Linked DNA regions of Homo sapiens. The protein of the gene in region 1 purifies or fractionates together with the protein of each later gene. This does not show direct contact. Each region holds a gene or a part of one and is shown in the gene's direction. Other genes may lie near its edges.

Region 1 (7,297 bases):
TTCCTCTACTGAAAGCTTCCACTGCTTTCTGCCCCCTTCAAACTCATATATACTTCATTGAATTGTTTCCTCGGGGAAGCCTTCCTGATACCACCCTACAGAGGGTGTCAGACGCCCTATTATGCTGTCACAGCACTTTTCACAGTAAGGTAAATTGCTTTTATAATTATTGGATTGCCTCTCTGACTATGTTTGTTGAATAAATAAAAAAAGGTGGCCAGGTGCCGTGGCTCACACCTGTAATCCCAGCACTTTGGGAGGCCGAGGCGGGCGGATCACGAGGTCAGGAGTTTGAGACAAGCCTGACCAACATGGTGAAAACCCGTCTCTACTAAATATACAAAAATTAGCCAGGCATGGTGGTTCGTGCCTGTAGTCCTAGCTACTCAGGAGGCTGAGGCAGAAGAATCACTTGAACCCGGGAGGCAGAGGTTGCAGTGAGCCAAGATTGTGCCATTGCACTCCAGCCTGGGCGACAGTGTGAGCCTCCATCTCCAAAAAAAAAAAAAAGTGGCTTTATAACCTGCCTTCTTTTTCTTATTCCCAGTGCTCTTAAAGTTCCGTACAGATAAAGGAAGAGATCCCAGTTCTGATACATATGAGGAAGATTCTGAGTTGTTGCTCCAGATACGAAATGATGTGCTTGACTCACTGGGTATTAGTCCTGACCTGCTTCCTGAGGACTTTGTCAGGTTGGTGTCAGTATTTATCACTGTTTAGTCTGGACAGATAAAGTTTGTTTTCAGGATTTGCCTTAATTTGACAAGCTCTTTTATTAGAAACCCTTCAGAGAGCACCCTGCCACATTCTGCTCGCTCCTGTAGACTTCTGCCTCTCCACTAGAATAGCAATATATAAAAAATAAAGAGGGGACAGATTCTGATTTTTACAATAAGTATCTTATATTCACGTGGTTCAAAATTCAAGGCAATGTAAGATCTGTAAACATTATTCTCTACCTTTTTTCACTTTATGTGATCTTGTTATCTCTTGGGGACATCTCCAGATCAGTACATAGTTTGCTCCCTCTTTTCCACAGCTCCTTAGTATTCTAGAGTGTGAAGCGATGGAGTTTATTGAACCAGTTGCCTGCTCACTCAAGTTGTGTTCAGGCTTTTCTAACTGCGTAACACTGCAGTGTGTGACCTTGTGTCGTACGTGTGCAGGTACAACTGCAGGATAATTAGGAGGAAGGGAGTTGCTGGGTCAGAAGGTTGTAATTTATCATTTGGTCAGCATTGCCACCTTGCCTCCATTGGTATCCTATCAATTCATACCCCCAGCAGCAAAACCACCCATGTTCCCAGCATCCTCTCACTTGGACACTCCATGCTTTCACCTTACGTGACTACCTTTTTGCTCTCATAAACAGGCTTAGGATTTGATTGGAGAAGACCACATAGTGACTAGGTCACAATCTCTCTCTCTCTTTTTTTTTTTTGAGACAGAGTTTTGCTCTTGTTGCCCAGGCTGGAGTGCAATGGCACAATCTCAACTCACCGCAACTTCTGCCGCCTGGGTCCAAGCGATTCTCCTAACTCAGCCTTTTGAGTAGCTGGGATTACAGGTGCCTGCCACCACGCCCAGCTAATTTTTTTTGTATTTTTAGTAGAGATGGGGTTTTCCATGTTGGCCAGGCAGGTCTTGAACTCTTGACCTCAGGTGATCCGCCTACCTTGGCCTCCCAAAGTGCTGAGATTACAGGCATGAGCCACCACGCGCTCCATCCACATCTCCTTCCAAGCAGCTCTGGGATCATGTACACACCCTAATTCCCTTTCCATGTCTTGAGAGGCTTCCTAAACTCGGCTTTGCAGTGCCTCCAGCTTGTAGCAGTGATAATGATGGCTGCAGTTTACTGAGCAGCTGTTATGTACTAGGCATCAGGTAGTAAGTAGCCAACCCAGATCCCACCCCAGGTATCATTACAGTGCTTGCTCTAGTAGCAGCATGCTACCTTGGTTTCTTATCAACAGTAAGGTCTGCCAGAGTCCCTAGTCCTTTCTTTGTTGACTTCCTGCTGGGAACTTCAGGTGAGCAACAGCAAACCCCACTCCATTTAGGGCCAGCAGTGGTCTTTGAAGCACCTGTGGTGCCCTGACCCAAAAAGCCATGATTGTCCTGGTACAGTGGCTCACACCTATAATCCCAGCACTTTGGGAGGTTGAGGCAGGCAGATTGCTTTGAGCTTAGGAGTTTGAGGCCAACCTTGACAACATGGTGAAACCCTGTCTCTACAAAAAATAGAAAAATTAACTGGGCATCGATGACTGGTGCTTGTAGTCTCAGCTACTCTGGAGGCTGAGGCTAGAGCATCGCTTGAGCCCAGGAAAGCAGAGGTTGCAGTGAACCAAGATTGCACCACTGCATTCCAGCCTGGGTGACAGAGAGAGACCGTGTCTCAATACATATAGCGTAAGGCTGGGCGCGGTGGCTCACGCCTGTAATCCCAGCACTTTGGGAGGCCGAGACAGGCAGATCATGAGGTCAGGAGATTGAGACCATCGTGGCTAACATGGTGAAACCCCATCTCTACTAAAAATACAAAAAATTAGCCAGGTGTGGTGGTGGGTGCCTAAGTCCCAGCTACTCGGGAGGCTGAGGCAGGAGAATGGCGTGAACCCGGGAGGCAGAGGTTGCAGTGAGCTGAGATCACGCCACTGCACTCCAGCCTGGGCGACAGAGCGAGAGGGAGACTCCTTCTCAAAAAAAAAAAAAAAAAAAAAAAGGCAGCAATAGAGTGGCAGTGCCTGAGCACACGAGACTGAGACATGGAAAAGCGGTTTCCCCAAAGAGGGTGGGCAGGGAAGGAACCACTTTGGAGAGAAAACCAGCCAGCAGCTCGTTAGGCTGTGGCTTTCCTCTTCTAGGAAGCAGGGCCTTCAACTCTGCTGGCCGGTGATGCAGAGCCAGACCGTTCATCACTTTGAATGCCCAAGTAGTCACTTGGCTGCACACTCACGGCCCAGCACACAGCCCCAGGTATGCTCAGTGGCTGCCGCTTGCCACTGGCTGACTGGCTGGGATTATTGGAACTGAAGCCCTGCATGACCCAGTCCTTCTTCCTGCTGCGAAGCACAGCAGAGGAAACACTTGCTTCTCACAAACTGGTCATTCCTCCACCAAGAGATGAGTGCCCCAGTGAGTTACCATGAGATCCAAGCCTGTACAGTGTCATCAGCCGCTGACCTCACGGTGCTGATGTTACAAAGGCACCTTGTAAACTGCTGCCTATGTTTAGATGATGGCTTTTTTTTTTTTTGGAGACAGAGTCTCGCTCTGTCCCCCAGGCTGGAGTGCGATGGCATGATCTTGGCTCACTGCAAGTTCCGCCTCCCGGGTTCACGCCATTCTCCTGCCTCAGCCTCCCCAGTAGCTGGGATAACAGGCGCCCGCCACCACGCCCAGCTAATTTTTTTTGTATTTTTTAGTAGAGATGTGGTTTCGCTGTGTTAGCCAGGATGGTCTTGATCTCCTGACCTCATGATCCACCTGCCTCGGCCTCCCAAAGTGTTGGGATTACAAGTGTGAGCCACCACGCCCAGCCTCTTTTTTTTTTTTTTTTTAAGATAGGGTCTCTCTCTGTTGCCTAGGCTAGAGTGCAGTGGCACATCATAGCTCACTGCAGCATCAACCTCCTGGGCTCAGGCAACACTCTCATCTCGGCCTCTTGCGTAGCTGGGACTATAGGCGTGTACTACCAAGCCTGCCTAATTTTTTTTTTTTTTTTTTTTTTTTGTATTGACAGGGTCTCACTATGTTCACCAGGCTGTTTCCTATTTTTTAAAGTTATGAACCGCATAACAAGAGAGTATACAAAGCACATCTGCCTGAGTTAAATGATAATTAATACTTATTTATTTTTGTTGTAGAGACGGGGGTCTCACTCTGCTGCCCAGGCTGTTCTCAGACTCCTGGATTCAAGCCATCCTTCTGCCTTGGCTTTCCAAAACTTCTGGGATAGACAGGCGTCAGCCACTTGTATCTCTTTTAATTTGGAATAGCCCTTGGCAAACTGGCTTGCCACCTCTTTTTGTAAATAAAGTTTTATTGGCACACTTACTCATTTATATATTATCTGTGGCAGCTTTTGTGCCACAGCAGGGTTAAATAGTTATAACAAAGACCATATGGCCCATAAAGCTGAAAATATTTTATTATCTGGTTCTTTTGTTTGTTTGTTTGTTTTTGAGACAAAGTTTCACTTTGTCACCTAGGCTAGAGTGCAGTGGCATGATCTCGGCTCACTGCAACCTCCACCTCCCGGGTTCAAGTGAATCTCCTGCCTCAGCCTCCTGAGTAGCTGGGATTACGGGCATACGCCACCATGCCCAGCTATTTTTTTTTATTTTTTTATTTTTTTTATTTTTTTTTGAGATGGAGTCTTACTCTGTCACCCAAGCTAGAGTGCAATGGCCCGATCTTGGCTCACTGCAACCTCCGCCTCTGTGCTCTGTGGTTCAAGTGATTCTTCTGTCTCAACCTCCTGAGTAGCTGGGACTACAGGCGCGTGCCACCACGCCCGGCTAATTTTTGTATTTTTAGTAGAGATGGGGTTTCACCATATTGGCCAGACTGATCTCAAACTCCTGACCTCATGATCCACCCAGCTTGGCCTCCGAAAGTGCTGGGATTACAGGCATGAGCCACTGCACCTGGCCTGTTATCTGGTTCCTTTTTTTTTTTTTTTTTTTTTTTTTTTTTGAATCAGAGTCTTGCTGTGTCACCCAGGCTGGAGTGCAGTGGCGTGATCTCGGCTTATTGCAACCTCTGCCTCCCAGCTTTAAGTGATTCTTTTGCCTCAGCCTCTGGAGTAGCTGGGACTATAGGCACGTGCCACCACGCCCAGCTAATTTCTGTATTTTTAGTAGAGACGGGGTTTCACCATATTGGCCAGACTGAACTATTCCTCCAATACGGCCAAAATGAGATTCTACCAGCAATGGGAGGAGTTTTTTTAATTATTATTATTGGGAGTCTCTCTCTCACCCAGGCTGGAGTGCAGTGGCACCATCTCGGCTCACTGCAACCTCCACCTCCTGGGTTCATGCAATTCTTCCACCTCAGCCTCCCGAGTATCTGGCATTACAGCTGCCCGCCACCACACCCGGCTAACTTTTGTATTTTAGTAGAGACGGGGTTTCACTATGTAGGTCAAGCTGGTCTTGAACTCCTGACCTCAAATGATCCACCCGCCTTGGCCTCCCAAAGTGCTGGGATTACAGATGTGAGCCACCGCACCCAGCCCTAGTTCTCCATGTATTTTAGAGCTCTGTAGTGGACCTTGATAAGCAGGAAGATGTTACCCCTGGATGAACAAAATGGGAATGTGCTGGTCCTGGCCAGGGCGTAAGGAGCCGGAGGTGCCTTTGGACACAGCTCTTGGGATTGGAATGGATACAGCCTTTTGGGAGGGCATTTTGGCAATACATATGAAAAACTAGCATTGCTATATTTAGAAATTTGTCTTAAGGAATTATTTCGACGCCTGTGTCTTTGTCAAGATGTATGATTACAGTGTTGAACAGCTTAAATGTCCCTCAATAGGTTATAGAACAGAAGAGTAATAGTTGATAATATTTGGGTTTAAAATTATACCTATTTATTTATTTATTTATTTTTTGAGACAGTCTTGCCCTGTCACCAGGCTGGAGTGTAGTTGTGCGATCTCAGCTCACTGCAACCTATGCCTCCCAGGTTCAAGCGATTCTCCTGCCTCAACCTCCTGAGTAGCTGGGACTACAGGCTCACCCCACCACACCAAGCTAATTTTTGTATTTTTAGTAGAAACGGGGTTTCACCATGTGGGCCAGGATGATCTCGATCTCTTGACTTTGTGATCCGCCCACCTCGACCTCCCAAAGTGCTGGGATTACAGGCATCAGCCACTGAGCCCGCCCTAATTATACCCGTTTAGATTGTGCACTTTTAAAAATGTCTAGAAGGGGCTGGGCGCAGTGGCTCACACCTGTAATCCCAGCGCTTTGGGAGGCCGAGGCGGGCGGATCACGAGGTCAAGAGATTGAGACCATCCTGGCCAACATGGTGAAACCCCGTCTCTACTAAAAATTCAGAGTAGCCGGGCGTGGTGGCGGGTGCCTGTAGTCTCAGCTACTCAGGAGGCTGAGGCAGGAAAATGACATGAATCCGGGAGGCGGAGCTTGCAGTAAGCCAAGATCGCGCCACTGCACTCCAGCCTGGGTGACAGAGCGAGACTCCGTCTCAAAAAAAGTCTAGAAGGATGTGCACCACACTGGGGAGATTGGAGGTAGTTCTGTAGGGAGGCTTTCCCTTTCACTTGTCTGTGTTCCAGTTTGCTTGGTGAGCACACAGCATTGTGTTCAGGAGTAGGAGCTGGCAGAGCACACTTCCTTTGGGGAAGTGGTGGAATTAAGTGATTTGCTTACTAGGATGGGTAACTTGGAGGGGCAGGTGACTGTGTCATCTAAAATTTGTCCTCTAGATGCCCCATCCTGGCCCAGAAGGGCTGGTTTCTATGTGGGTTGTGAAGACTTTTTCTGCCCTCATACTTTAATTTCACGCCTCAAATTTCCCTTGCTTCCTACATGTTAACACAGGCCTGCTCCCTGACATTTGTCTGGGAATAGCATATAGAACCCACTGGCCATTATGGGTAAGAAGAGAATTGCGAGAATGTGACCAGGGCACTGAAACATCTGATATCTCTAGGACAGATATAGGAAGCACAGATATAGTCTTTCCTTTAACTTATAAAGGTAAAAATAAAAGTATTGTGAAAGAATTTCTGCTTGCCAAAGTTCAAAGGTCTTTTCCAACCACTTATGAATCCCTTGCTCAGATTTCATTTTCACGCCTAGATGCCAGCATTAACACTGCTATCTGAATCGGGCCCTCCTGCTAGAAGTTGTTTTTATTCAGGAGAGCCTACTACTGAATTTCTCCAGATGTCATGGTCACAGTTCTGTTCCCAGTGCTCCATTTTCCTTGTCTTCCTCTCTTTTAGGTACTGCTTCTCCGAGATGGCCCCAGTGTGTGCGGTGGTTGGAGGGATTTTGGCACAGGAAATTGTGAAGGTAAAACATCACTGTGGAGCAGAAAATTGTTAACCATGACTTTGTATATGTGCTGACAGAGAGAATGGAAACTGTCTTAGACAGCTGCCTGCTTTCTCTCACCCCATTCATCTTTGTTTCATGCCCTCCCCATTTCCACCTCATCCCATTTTCTCTGGCCCATCCAGGTGCCATTCAGCAAATGACCTTGGAGTGCCTGCTCTGTGCTTAGCTCACAGTTGGCCATAGTGCCTCGAAGGTGT
Region 2 (3,243 bases), on another chromosome or scaffold:
ATCACTTCATCTTGTGGAGTCTCAGTTTTGTCTGTCCATAAATGGAACCAATACCTGCTTTTTCTCCCTTTCAATGTTGTGAGAATCCACTGGAATGTTTTATGTGGAAATATTTTTGCAAAACATTTAAGATTTTAAATATTTACTATTCAGTATTTAATAAATATTGAAAACATCTTTGCAACAAGTATCCATTTGTACCTACTTGAGGAAACCTACACACCGCTGAGGCAGTGGCAGCTCTGGGAGTGTTCACCAGGGAGAAGCTGCTGAGAGCAGCTGAGCAGGGAGGGCCTCGTGGAGTCTCTGGGGCTTGACTGGGGGTCAGGGGGCTGGCTGTGGACAGGTGGACCGAGAGGCAGAGGGAGCCCTGCCTGGGGGCTCTCCCTCCAGCCCATAGTGTCGGTGGCAGGGTGAGGGTGGCCGACAGCCCTGATGGGACTCCTTTCCATCTGGGAGCATGACTACTTCCAGCCTTGCTGAGTCTGTGTAGGAACTGGCAGAAGCTTCCTCTTGCTTAGAGGATGGAAGAAGATCAGGGTGGGTGTTTTGCGCCCACTGTGTCAGGAGGAGAGAAGTGAGCGGGGGTGTTTCACTACCTTGCCTGGGCTTTAAATGGGGAGGGGCGGGGAGAAGCTGGCAATGGACCCTCACTTGACGGGCCCTTCTGTGAGCTGGGGGCTTTGGCTTTCATGGCATGGTCCCCCGCACTTGGTATAAAGCGCAAGGCTCCTGTGGGTCCTAGGACTCAGTGCTGCTAATCAGATGTTCTTAATTAGAATCTGATTTTGTGTAATTTTCAGTAAGAATTTTAGACATTTCAGTTTATCTTCTAGACTCAGTTTTTCTCTCAGTTAACATTTTAGCTTTGAATCTGCTTTTGTGAGTTTTGTTAGGGGAAGCTTGTTGAACCGTAAGGGCTGTAGTGAGCATACAGCAATGCCTCTTCCATGCGTGCTGAGCTGCAGTGAGGGGACGGACAAGAGCCAAGGTGTGACCAGGTGATGTCGCTAGTGTCAGGGAACACTCATGCCAGTGAGGATCTTCCCACTCTCTGATGAAAACTAACAGGCTCCCCTCTCTCTCGCTGTGCCTGTTGTGACAACCATGACAGCTGGAGATGGAGGACGAGGACACCATCGACGTGTTCCAGCAGCAGACGGGAGGTGTGCCGGAGAGCAGCCTGGCAGGGCACAGTTTCTAGAGGGCCCGTCCCCAGCCCGGGCCGTCCATCCTCGCATTGCTGTTGAATGGTGAGCACGTGACCATGCCGACCACAAAGGTGTCTGCGGAAACTCGAGGACATTCACCACGATGATTTTCCTCTCTTTGATGTACTTCAAGTGCAACTCAAAACTATATCTGCAGGGATGAATCTGTAACTTAAATTGGGCCAATCAGAATTGTTATCTTTGTTCAGGTAAAATGAGTTGCAAGATATTGTGGGTACTTTTGTGTGCTCATTTGTGTTTTCCCCCCCTCCTACAACATTTTTTTAACCCCAAAATTATAGCCTGAATGTTCGCTTTTAGTCTGGCCAGGGATCTGACTCCTGAGTTGGTTGCCTCTCCCCTGCTCACTCCAGTCACATAGAGAATTGGTGTTTCCCGCAGTGGGGATGCAGCTGTTGGACAGGTATTGGGGGCAAGGTTGGTAGGGAGGACAGACTGTCACTTGCTGTTACAGGCACAGGTGATTAAAATGCTAAATATTGCAAATTTAAGCTTTGTCAGTATATGGAAAAGTTGAAGGGAAAATACTGGAATGCTTCTTCAAAGGTTAAAAAATAACCGAGTCTTTTGGTAATTTGACCCCACGTGCTCTCTGGCCCTCAAGCATGTAACCTCGGGGTCTGAGGCCCAGGACCCACCCCCCTGCCACCCCTCCCACCCCACTCCCTGCTCAGTACCTGGCGTTGGTACACAGGCAAGGATTGGCACAACCAAAATTGGCCTTTTTCTCCCTCTTAATATTGAAGAAATTCCCACATTTCTCATTTGGTAATGGTGTTGTGGCCTCAGATTTCTTCTAGTATTTGCTTCTGATGAATGATTATGGTCTATACATAAAAAAGTAAGACTAAGTATTGCTGAATTTGCAGTTATGTTGTCGTGTATAAGAGCTACTTCCAAGTGTGGTTACAAATGAACCCATGGAATGATGACTTCATGTTCTTCTCGTGGGTTTGTGCCGTGCTGCTTTCCAAATAGGTATTGAATTTATGCATTAGTCTGGTGATTTCAGTTCTGTGAAATATTTTGGGATCTATACCAATTAAACATTTTCATAGTTCTGCCTATTGTCCTTCCCTGAGGCTCCATTGCTGCTTGGTGGCCATTCTCTGCCTTTTTACAGTCACCTGAACAATGACCCATCATCTCTTGCTTGCTTGAAATCTTGCTGAAATGTTCTCATTTCCTGTTTGCTGTATGGGCTCGGGTGGGATGTTTGTTGGCTCTGTTGTGTTTATTCACCAATTTGTACATTATTTGTTGTCCTTTACTACTGTAAACAGTAAATATAGTTTGGTATTCTGTCTCTTGGCTTCTACTAAACACTGCATTTGAAGGTTGGGGCATACTGGTACAATTCAGTGTTTGAATTGACCATTCCAGGCAGCCACTGCACTGAGAAACTTTGATTGAAAAGCTAGCCGCTGGAAGGTTAGTATTCGCCTGGCAGCTCATTTCCCCTCCCCTGGCACATCACCAATGCTAGTCCAGCCTTCTTCCTGCTGAGGGATGCATCCTCTCCTCAGAGACCTCCTGGCTGACAGCTGTCTGAGCTGGCATCACTGTGACATGTTACCCTCCCTCTCCTGGGTTTCGTATGTAAAGAAAGGGTGGATTTTAGAGGCAGGTGAGCTTGGGTGTTAGTCTAGGACATCTCTCGTTTTCTGGTGTTTGAATGTAAGTCAGCTTTCCTTCTGCCATGGACAACTTACCTATCTGCTTTGAAACTGAACTGACATTGATTTGGCTTTAAGAATTTCCCAGTGTGCAGTGGTGTAACAAAACCCAGGTTGAAAATGAGCTGTTTTAGCCCATCAGTTGAATGAACCCAAGGTGAAGAAAGATGGGCAGCTGTGGAGATGGAACACGTGATTCACTTGCACCAGGAAGAGTGCACGGATTAAGGCACAATACAGGATGGGGACATCTGCCAGATTCCCTAGGCAGCCTGGGGCGAAGCGGCTGCCAAAATCAATGAGGAAAGGGATGTGTCCCAGGCACCGTAGGTTAG

What was found.
Region 2: the proteins of SAE1 (region 1) and SUMO3 purify together in Homo sapiens (affinity purification with mass spectrometry; 3 studies listed by BioGRID and IntAct, with this or other methods). This does not show direct contact.

The regions. Positions count from the first base shown.
Region 1 is NC_000019.10:47,196,686-47,203,982, forward strand, and holds part of SAE1 (SUMO-activating enzyme subunit 1), read left to right. Parts: intron 1-547; coding exon 548-692; intron 693-6,985; coding exon 6,986-7,055; intron 7,056-7,297. UniProt on the Homo sapiens protein: The heterodimer acts as an E1 ligase for SUMO1, SUMO2, SUMO3, and probably SUMO4. It mediates ATP-dependent activation of SUMO proteins followed by formation of a thioester bond between a SUMO protein and a conserved active site cysteine residue on UBA2/SAE2.
Region 2 is NC_000021.9:44,804,912-44,808,154, reverse strand, and holds the end of SUMO3 (small ubiquitin-related modifier 3 isoform 1 precursor), read left to right. Parts: intron 1-1,114; coding exon 1,115-1,204; 3' UTR 1,205-2,538; downstream 2,539-3,243. UniProt on the Homo sapiens protein: Ubiquitin-like protein which can be covalently attached to target lysines either as a monomer or as a lysine-linked polymer. Does not seem to be involved in protein degradation and may function as an antagonist of ubiquitin in the degradation process.